Homo sapiens: one gene and its partner. The protein of the gene in region 1 purifies or fractionates together with the protein of each later gene. This does not show direct contact. Each region holds a gene or a part of one and is shown on either strand. Other genes may lie near its edges. The genes, in order: MDGA2 and SORT1.

Region 1 (3,832 bases):
TGTAGTAGACACATGATCAGGCAGCGTTTTGTATCTTGTACTTTGAAGTATTCACCTATAATTTTGTGCCTTCTCATGGTTCCAAATTGCAGTGAACACTGGATTGATTTTACTCCTTAAGAATAGAAGTTTATGATTCAGGCTAACAAAAATGTGCTAACTTTGCACAATTGTGCTTTGTTCCTAGAAGATATTCAATTTTTATCATCTATCACTAAAACAAAAGGAAATTAGGGTGATGAAAAGTACTTGTGTTTGGACATTATTTCTTTTCTAGCTTAAAAAAAAGCTAGAGACAATAAAAACATTTTTAAAAAAATTCTAACATATTTAAACGTTGGTGCTAGCGCTAAGAGATGGATTATTTTAGGATATCTGAGGGAAAACTGTTGATACACACAGTCAGTTATCACTTGTTTATGTATTCATTCAATCAACAAATATCCATTGATTCTTCACCTCAGTGTGCTAGGTGACACTGTACACTGTACTGTATGACATTCCAATATAATATTTCCTGTAAGAGAGTAAGAGCAAATTTTGTAGATCCAGGATAATTTGTCCTCATTTTCTGAGGGATAGTTTCCCATAAATGTTCTAGACTTAATCAAAACCATTTCTTTGTTTGGTTTGGTTTGGCTGGGTTTTTTTTGTTTGTTTCCTTTACAGAACCAGTGACACAAAGCTCAGATCCAAAGAATCAATGCTTTTATCTAAAAGAACTCCTTTGATGGGAGCACAGTTTATATACCATTAAACTTAGACAAAAGATGGAGCACAGAATGGAGACAAGAAAGCAGCATTATATACAGGGCTCACAAAACGAGCCCTAACATTTATTTTTAAACATACTAGTTATATTGCCTGTTTGAAACTATGTGTTATATATGACAAAATAGTAAAGATGACCAACATTGATTTGTGAAATTTCCACCAATCCTTTAAAGAAAATTCAAGATTAGTAATAAGAGATTGGTTGTAATCATTAAATTTTCCTAACTATCATTAATTTGCCTGGCTACCCAAGGTAACACTATTGGAGATAAAAGAAATATATTGACTTCTTCCAAAACACTACCCCTGGAAAGTACCCACTTAACTACAGATAGATGTGGTTTCTCCATAGAATGGAAGCTCTACAAAGTCTGAGACTTTGTCTGCATCACTCATTGCTATAATCTCAATAGCCGAAACAATACATGGCACATAGAAGGTACTAAACAGATAATTATTAACTAACAAAATGACTAATTTATGCATACACCTTTCATTTTAGGTTTTCTCCCCTCCCATTGTCTCTATAATATAGACATTTGCTGTGCCTCTTACTGCCCTTATTGTAATTCCCTACTGACTTAAAGTTATTTGATAGACAAATTTATAGTGACTTAATGTTTTATCACTCCCAAAGACAGGAGCAGCTCCTCAATTTGTGGTGTCCAGTGAAAATAAAAATGCATGCCCCTTGTTCAAAAATTAATAAACTCACTATGGCAACATCAAAGCATTAAAGCAAATTTGGGGCTGTTCTAAGTGTGGCTACACGGATGGCAGGCTCTTGAGGCTAGATGGCCTAGGAGATTTTATTGTGATAGAAGGCCTACAGAAGATGATGCCTAACCTAAAGAATGAGTTACTGAAGATGATTACATATTCTGTCTTCAAGCCAAAACTGACCTTTGATGTTCCAATTTGCTTACAATAGAGTGGAATACTAGAATGCAGTATAAAGTTCTATAAATCTGAGATTGTATGATTCAACTGACATCATTAAAATGATATTTATCCCAATACTATTGAAGACTAAAGTGCTTTAATATGAAAATAGGTGTATTCTAGGATATAGTTTGAACAGTGAAAATGAATAAGCTATAGCATACAAGGAAATCTTGGATTATATCAATTTTATGAACCCTGGAGGATACTGAGGAAATTCACACAAATGGGATGAGTGAGTCAAAGAAAAGGAAGCAACAATGTAAGACATAAATATATATGTGGTGATGTGTTAGATTCTTGGTTTTGCTAGTATTTCTATTATAAGAAATTGAGCATTGACCAAATGGTCAGTAGCTGACTTGTGGGCTAAGCATTTCTTTATGTTAAATATAAGGCATTTTAGGGTGACATTTTAAAACATTTTGAAAATTTCTGAGCTTTTTGTTTTTCATATAAAATCTTACATCGAATCTCAATTGTTACTCTGTTGTTTCTTTTTCCTCTCTCTTTAATTCTTCATCATTCAATTTGAGTGTTACTGTGTTTTAAGAGTCATATAATGATATTTTTTAAGTAGAGGCTGAGATACCACAAGGCATTTTTACCTGAGACAGAAAATCATTTTTCTTAAATGACAGAGCCACATTTCAACATATGTTTTTGATGACTTTTAAAATTGAAATACAAAATATTTCAGGGAAGTAAATCCTAATTTACAGAATTATTCATATTCTCAAAAGACAATGATCTGATTTTAGAAGACAGTTTAGGGCCAGGCATGGTGGCTCACACTGTAATCCCAGCAATCTGGGAGGCTGACTCAGGAGGATCCCTTTAGGCCAGAAGTTTGAGGCTGCAGTGAGCTATCATGGTACCACTTCACTTCAACCTGGTTGACAGACCAAGACTCTGTCTCAAAAAAGCAAGGCAAGGCAAGGCAAGGCAGGGCAGGGCAGGGCAAGGTAGGGCAGGGCAAGGTAAGGCAAGGCAAGGCAGATTGGAGAGGAGAGAAGAAGGGAGGGGAAAGGAGGGGAGGGGAGGGGAAAGGAGGGGAGGGGAGGGGAGAGGAGGGAAAGAAAAGGAAAGAAGAAAAGAGAGGCCTCATGTGTTTTGGAGTTTGAATTTGATTGATAAAAACTATGATATATGTGATTATAGGTTGTCTTACTTTCATCTTTAAACATGCAAATTGTTTCATTGGGAGTATTTTTTTTTTAATTTAAAATTAGTGTTTCCTTTAGATTTCTTTCCTGTGTTATTGCTACATATACACTCTGTGTTATATGGTGATAGTACAAATAGGCCTTGCCCTTAAGGAGCTTACAATCTAAATCATCAAGACAGATTACGTAGAAACTAGGCAATATATAGTGGTTGCATACTGTGCTTAAAGCTTGATCGGACTTCTGTAGAAATTGTGAATTTTTTGTTCATGTGGGTATAAGAAACTTTTACAGAGAAATGACATTTGAGTTAAAACTTGACAAAAGTAGCATTGCGCTAGTGACAGTGGAAGGAGGATATATTTGGCAGAGTATAGAGGATGAAGAAAGTCTCAAGAATATTAAAGTGATAATTATTGTTTTTACTGTAGGGCTGATATTCATTGATATGAATATAAGCAAATTATATTGGTTTATTACAACTTTATAGTTTTTTATTACTGAAGCTATATTTTATCTGGCTAGACTGCAGGTAAGTTAAAATTGTTATAAATGTTTCAATTAAAAAATTAAATATACTATATGCTATAATTAAATATACTATACGCTATAATTCAATTTTACAAAATAAAAAAACTTCACATACTTGCTGAAAAATGCATGTGAATTTTAGCCTAAAATTTTGATGAAAGTTAAATTCTTAATTATTGTCACTTGATTGTCACTCATTTGCAAAAATATAATCGTTATACAGCAGTAGACTTAATTTTCAAAGGCATTGTTGCAAAATATCTCATTGCTTCTTCCAGTATTATTCCATGGTAGAGTCCTTGGATGCTCATTAGCTTGCACTTATTTCTTTGCATGACTTGACAAACTTGTAGGTTTATAGTAAACTCAGAAGCATCTGCATCATGCCTCGAAAACCTAAACAGTGAAACTGCTGATCT
Region 2 (3,832 bases), on another chromosome or scaffold:
TCACCCACACAGAACATCTGTCAATCCTCTTTCATATGCATATGCATCTGCTGATTCCAGCTAAAAGAAATTAAACCATATTGATTATTTAGGAAAATGGACTTGGAAGTTTCTGGTAGAAAAGGTCAAAGGAGACACTCACAGTTCCTTTCAAGGATATCTTTAAAATCAATGGTGTAGGAGACCCACTGGCTGGTCAGGAAAGATTCTGTGAAGCCCCAAATGCTGATATTCATGGACCTAGCTCCAGGTTCTGAAGCTAGGCCAGTGAAATAGATGGGGTCCCTGGTGAACGTGTAGGTTTGCCAGCATTGACCTTCGTCTGTGGAGAACCTGAAACCACAATTACAGAAAGATCATGACAGAGGATCAATGTGTACTGGGAATTCAGAAAACCACTCTGGCTTTTTGATCCCAAACCAGACAAAACCCCTTACATTTAGGTGGTGGCTTATTGGCTGACAATTATTTTAACTTTTTTTTTTTTTTTTTTTTTTTCTGAGATGGAGTCTCACTCTGTCACCGGGCTGGAGTGCAGTGGCGCGATCTCGACTCACTGCAACCTCTGCCTCCTGGGTTCAAGTGATTCTCTCTCATGCCTCAGCCTCCTGAGTAGCTGGGATTACAGGAACGTGCCACCACACCAGCTAATTTTTGTATTTTTAGTAGAAATGGAGTTTCACATGTTGGGCAGGCTGGTCTTGAACTCCTGACCTCAGGTAATCTTCCCACCTTGGCCTCCCAAAGTGCTGGGATTATAGGCGTGAGCCACCGCACCCAGCCAACTATTTTAACTTTTAACGTCTGTAGTTAACAGGATAAGGAAGAGATTTGTTCAGAGAGAATATGAAAGTAAATACCTTTACAGAAATTATTTCAAAGGAAAGACAGGAGAGTGACCCAGGTAAGAACTGGCTTTTAAATTAATAAATTTAAGGCTGGCTGTGGTGGCTCACGCCTGTAATCCCAGAATTTTGGGAGGCTGAGGCAGGTGAATCACCTGAGGTTAGGAGTTCGAGACCAGCCTGACCAACACAACAAAACCCCGTCTCTACCAAAACACAAAAAACAAAGCAAAACAAAAAACCACAAAAATTAGCTGGGTGTGGTGGTGCATGCCTGTAATCTCAGCTGCTCAGGTGACTGAGACGCAAGAATCATTTGAACCTGGGAGGCAGAGGTTGCAGTGAGCCAAGATTGCACCATTGCACTCCAGCCTGGGTGACAAGAGCAAAACTCCATCTCAATAAATAAATAAATAAATAACAATCAAATTATTTTATAAGAACTTATACTTCTTTTTTTTTTTTTTTTGAGACGGGATCTCACTCTGTCACCCAGGCTGGAGTGCAGTGGTACGATCTCAGCTCACTGTGGCCTTGACCTCCTCAGGTGATCCTCCCACCTCGGCCTCCCAAGTAGCTGGAACCAAAGGCGTGCACCACCACGCCCAGCTAATTTTTCTTTTTTTTTTTTTGTGGAGACAGGGTTTTGTCACATTGCCCAGGCTGGTCTTGAACTCTTGGGCTCAAGCAATCCACCCACCTTGGCCTCTCAAAGTGCTGGGATTACAGGTGTGTGCCTCTGCACCCAGCTCAGAACTTGTACTTAAGAAGTCATTTTCAATCTAGAGTGCTTGAACGCTTCCATAATAATTTTGTAGACAGAAAGAATATATATATATATATATATATATATATATATATATACATACACACACACACACACATATATATACACACATATATACACACATACACATATATATACACATATATATACATATATATACACATATATATACACACACACACATACATATATACACACACACATATATATATATATGGTTTTTTTTTTGATTGAAATAATATTAGAGACAAGGGACAAGGTCTCCCTATGTTGCCCAGGCTGGTCTTGAACTCCTGGCCTCAAGCGATCCTCCTGCTTTGGCCTCCCAAAATGCTGGGATTACAGGCATGAGCCACTGCGCCCAACCCAGAAAGAATGTTTTTAAGAAGTGACAAATATGTTAGCTAAAGGCAGTCAGAAGAAAAAACAATGCCATTTAATCTGAGTTGCCAATTAAAAGCAATCCTTTCTAGAATCTTATCTATAGTTCTGTCAAATGCAAAAATTTGAATTATAGTCTGTAACATCCCCCCAATAAACTGAAGAACATTCCCCCAGTTGCCCTCTATGCAGACAGTGTGTGTGAGATGAGTTCATGCATACTTAATCACATTGATAGGACGGCTGCTGTGCTCAATGGCCACAATGATGCCTCCAGAATCCAGGATGGTGTAATAGTGGGGTCCTTCCAGCATCTTTGTCCAGGAGTAACCCCCATCATCTGAGATGTACACATCTGGAACCATCACTGAGATGGCATCCCCCACGCTACCTGCAATATAATCCACCATCTCATTAGCACAAATAGGCAATGAAACAGAGAGCATTTACTCCAGAGAGAATAATGTTGAATGAATTTATTCTGATTATTTCCCATCAAGCCTCTTTTAGTAGGAAAGAAAACCACCAAAAACTTCGGAGAAGTTGTGTTGCTCTCTCTGATAAAAGTTGATGAAAAACCCAAAGTGTTGTTATAATGTAAGAAATTCTACCAAAGGAATGTAAAAGCATCCACATTGTTTCTTCTCAGAGCGTTCAAAGCCTGTTGGCTGAGTTTCAGTGTGCTCAGCCACTGTTCCAGTTGGAGGTGGTGAGTGGGAGGTTCCTTACCATGAGCAATGACAATGCCTACGGCATTCGGCTCTGAGAGTGGGGCCATTGGAACATTCAGTTTCTGGGAGATGCTGTAGGAAGCATGAATATGAAGGCTGCACTGTGAAAAGAAACAAAAGCGTAGATTAGAACCAAAGATAAAGATACAATTTCTTTAATCATTTCACAAAACCCTTCCAATAAAGCTTTAAGTTAACCCAGACCTAGGTAAAAGTACTATCTTAACTATTTATTTACTATTTAGGTGTATAGTTCAGTAGTGTTAAGTATATTCACATTGTTGTACAACCACATCTCTAAACTTTTTCATCTTATAAAATACAATCACCAATTAAGCAACTGTTACCTACTTCTTCCTCCTCCCAGCTCCTGGAAACTACCATTTTACTTTGTGTTTTCTATGATTTTTACCATATTACTTTGTGTTGGCTACTCTAGGTAGCTCATATAAGTAGAATCACATAATATTTGTCATTTTGTGTCTGACTTATTTCACTTGGCATAATGTCCTCAAGGCTCATCCATGTTGTATTAATAGCATATGTCAGAATTTCCTCCCTTTTAAAGGCTAAATATTATTTAAGTGTGTGTGTGTATCTGTATCCACACACACCCCACACTTTATTTACTCATTTATCTGTCAATAGACACAAGTTGCTTCTACCTTTTGGCTATCATGAATAATGTTGCTATGTACATGGTTGTACAAATATCTTTTTGAGAACCTGCTTTCAACTCTTTTGGATGTATAATCCAGAAGTGGAATTGCTGGATATGATAATCCTATTTTTAATTTTTTTTAGGAACTACTATGCTGTTTTCTGTAGCAGCTGCACCATTTTACATTTTCACCAAAAGTGCACCAGGGCTCCAATTTCTCCATATCCTTGCCAACACTTTTTAAAATAGTAGCCACCCTAATCTGTGTGAGGAGATACCTCATTGTGGTTTTGACTTGCATTTTCCTAATGATTAGTGATGCTGAGCCTCTTTTTATATGCTTGTTAGTCACTTCTATATTGTGTTTGGAGAAATGTCTATACAAGTTCTTTGCCTATTTTTTATTCAGGCTATTTGTTTGTTGTTG

The links.
Region 2: the proteins of MDGA2 (region 1) and SORT1 purify together in Homo sapiens (affinity purification with western blotting; one study listed by BioGRID). This does not show direct contact.

Annotation. Positions count from the first base shown.
Region 1 is NC_000014.9:47,056,576-47,060,407, reverse strand, and holds part of MDGA2 (MAM domain-containing glycosylphosphatidylinositol anchor protein 2), read left to right. Parts: intron 1-1,027; exon of another isoform or gene 1,028-1,213; intron 1,214-1,411; exon of another isoform or gene 1,412-1,791; intron 1,792-3,832. UniProt on the Homo sapiens protein: May be involved in cell-cell interactions.
Region 2 is NC_000001.11:109,324,757-109,328,588, forward strand, and holds part of SORT1 (sortilin isoform 1 preproprotein), read right to left. Parts: intron 2,846-3,832; coding exon 2,743-2,845; intron 2,405-2,742; coding exon 2,236-2,404; intron 334-2,235; coding exon 143-333; intron 1-142.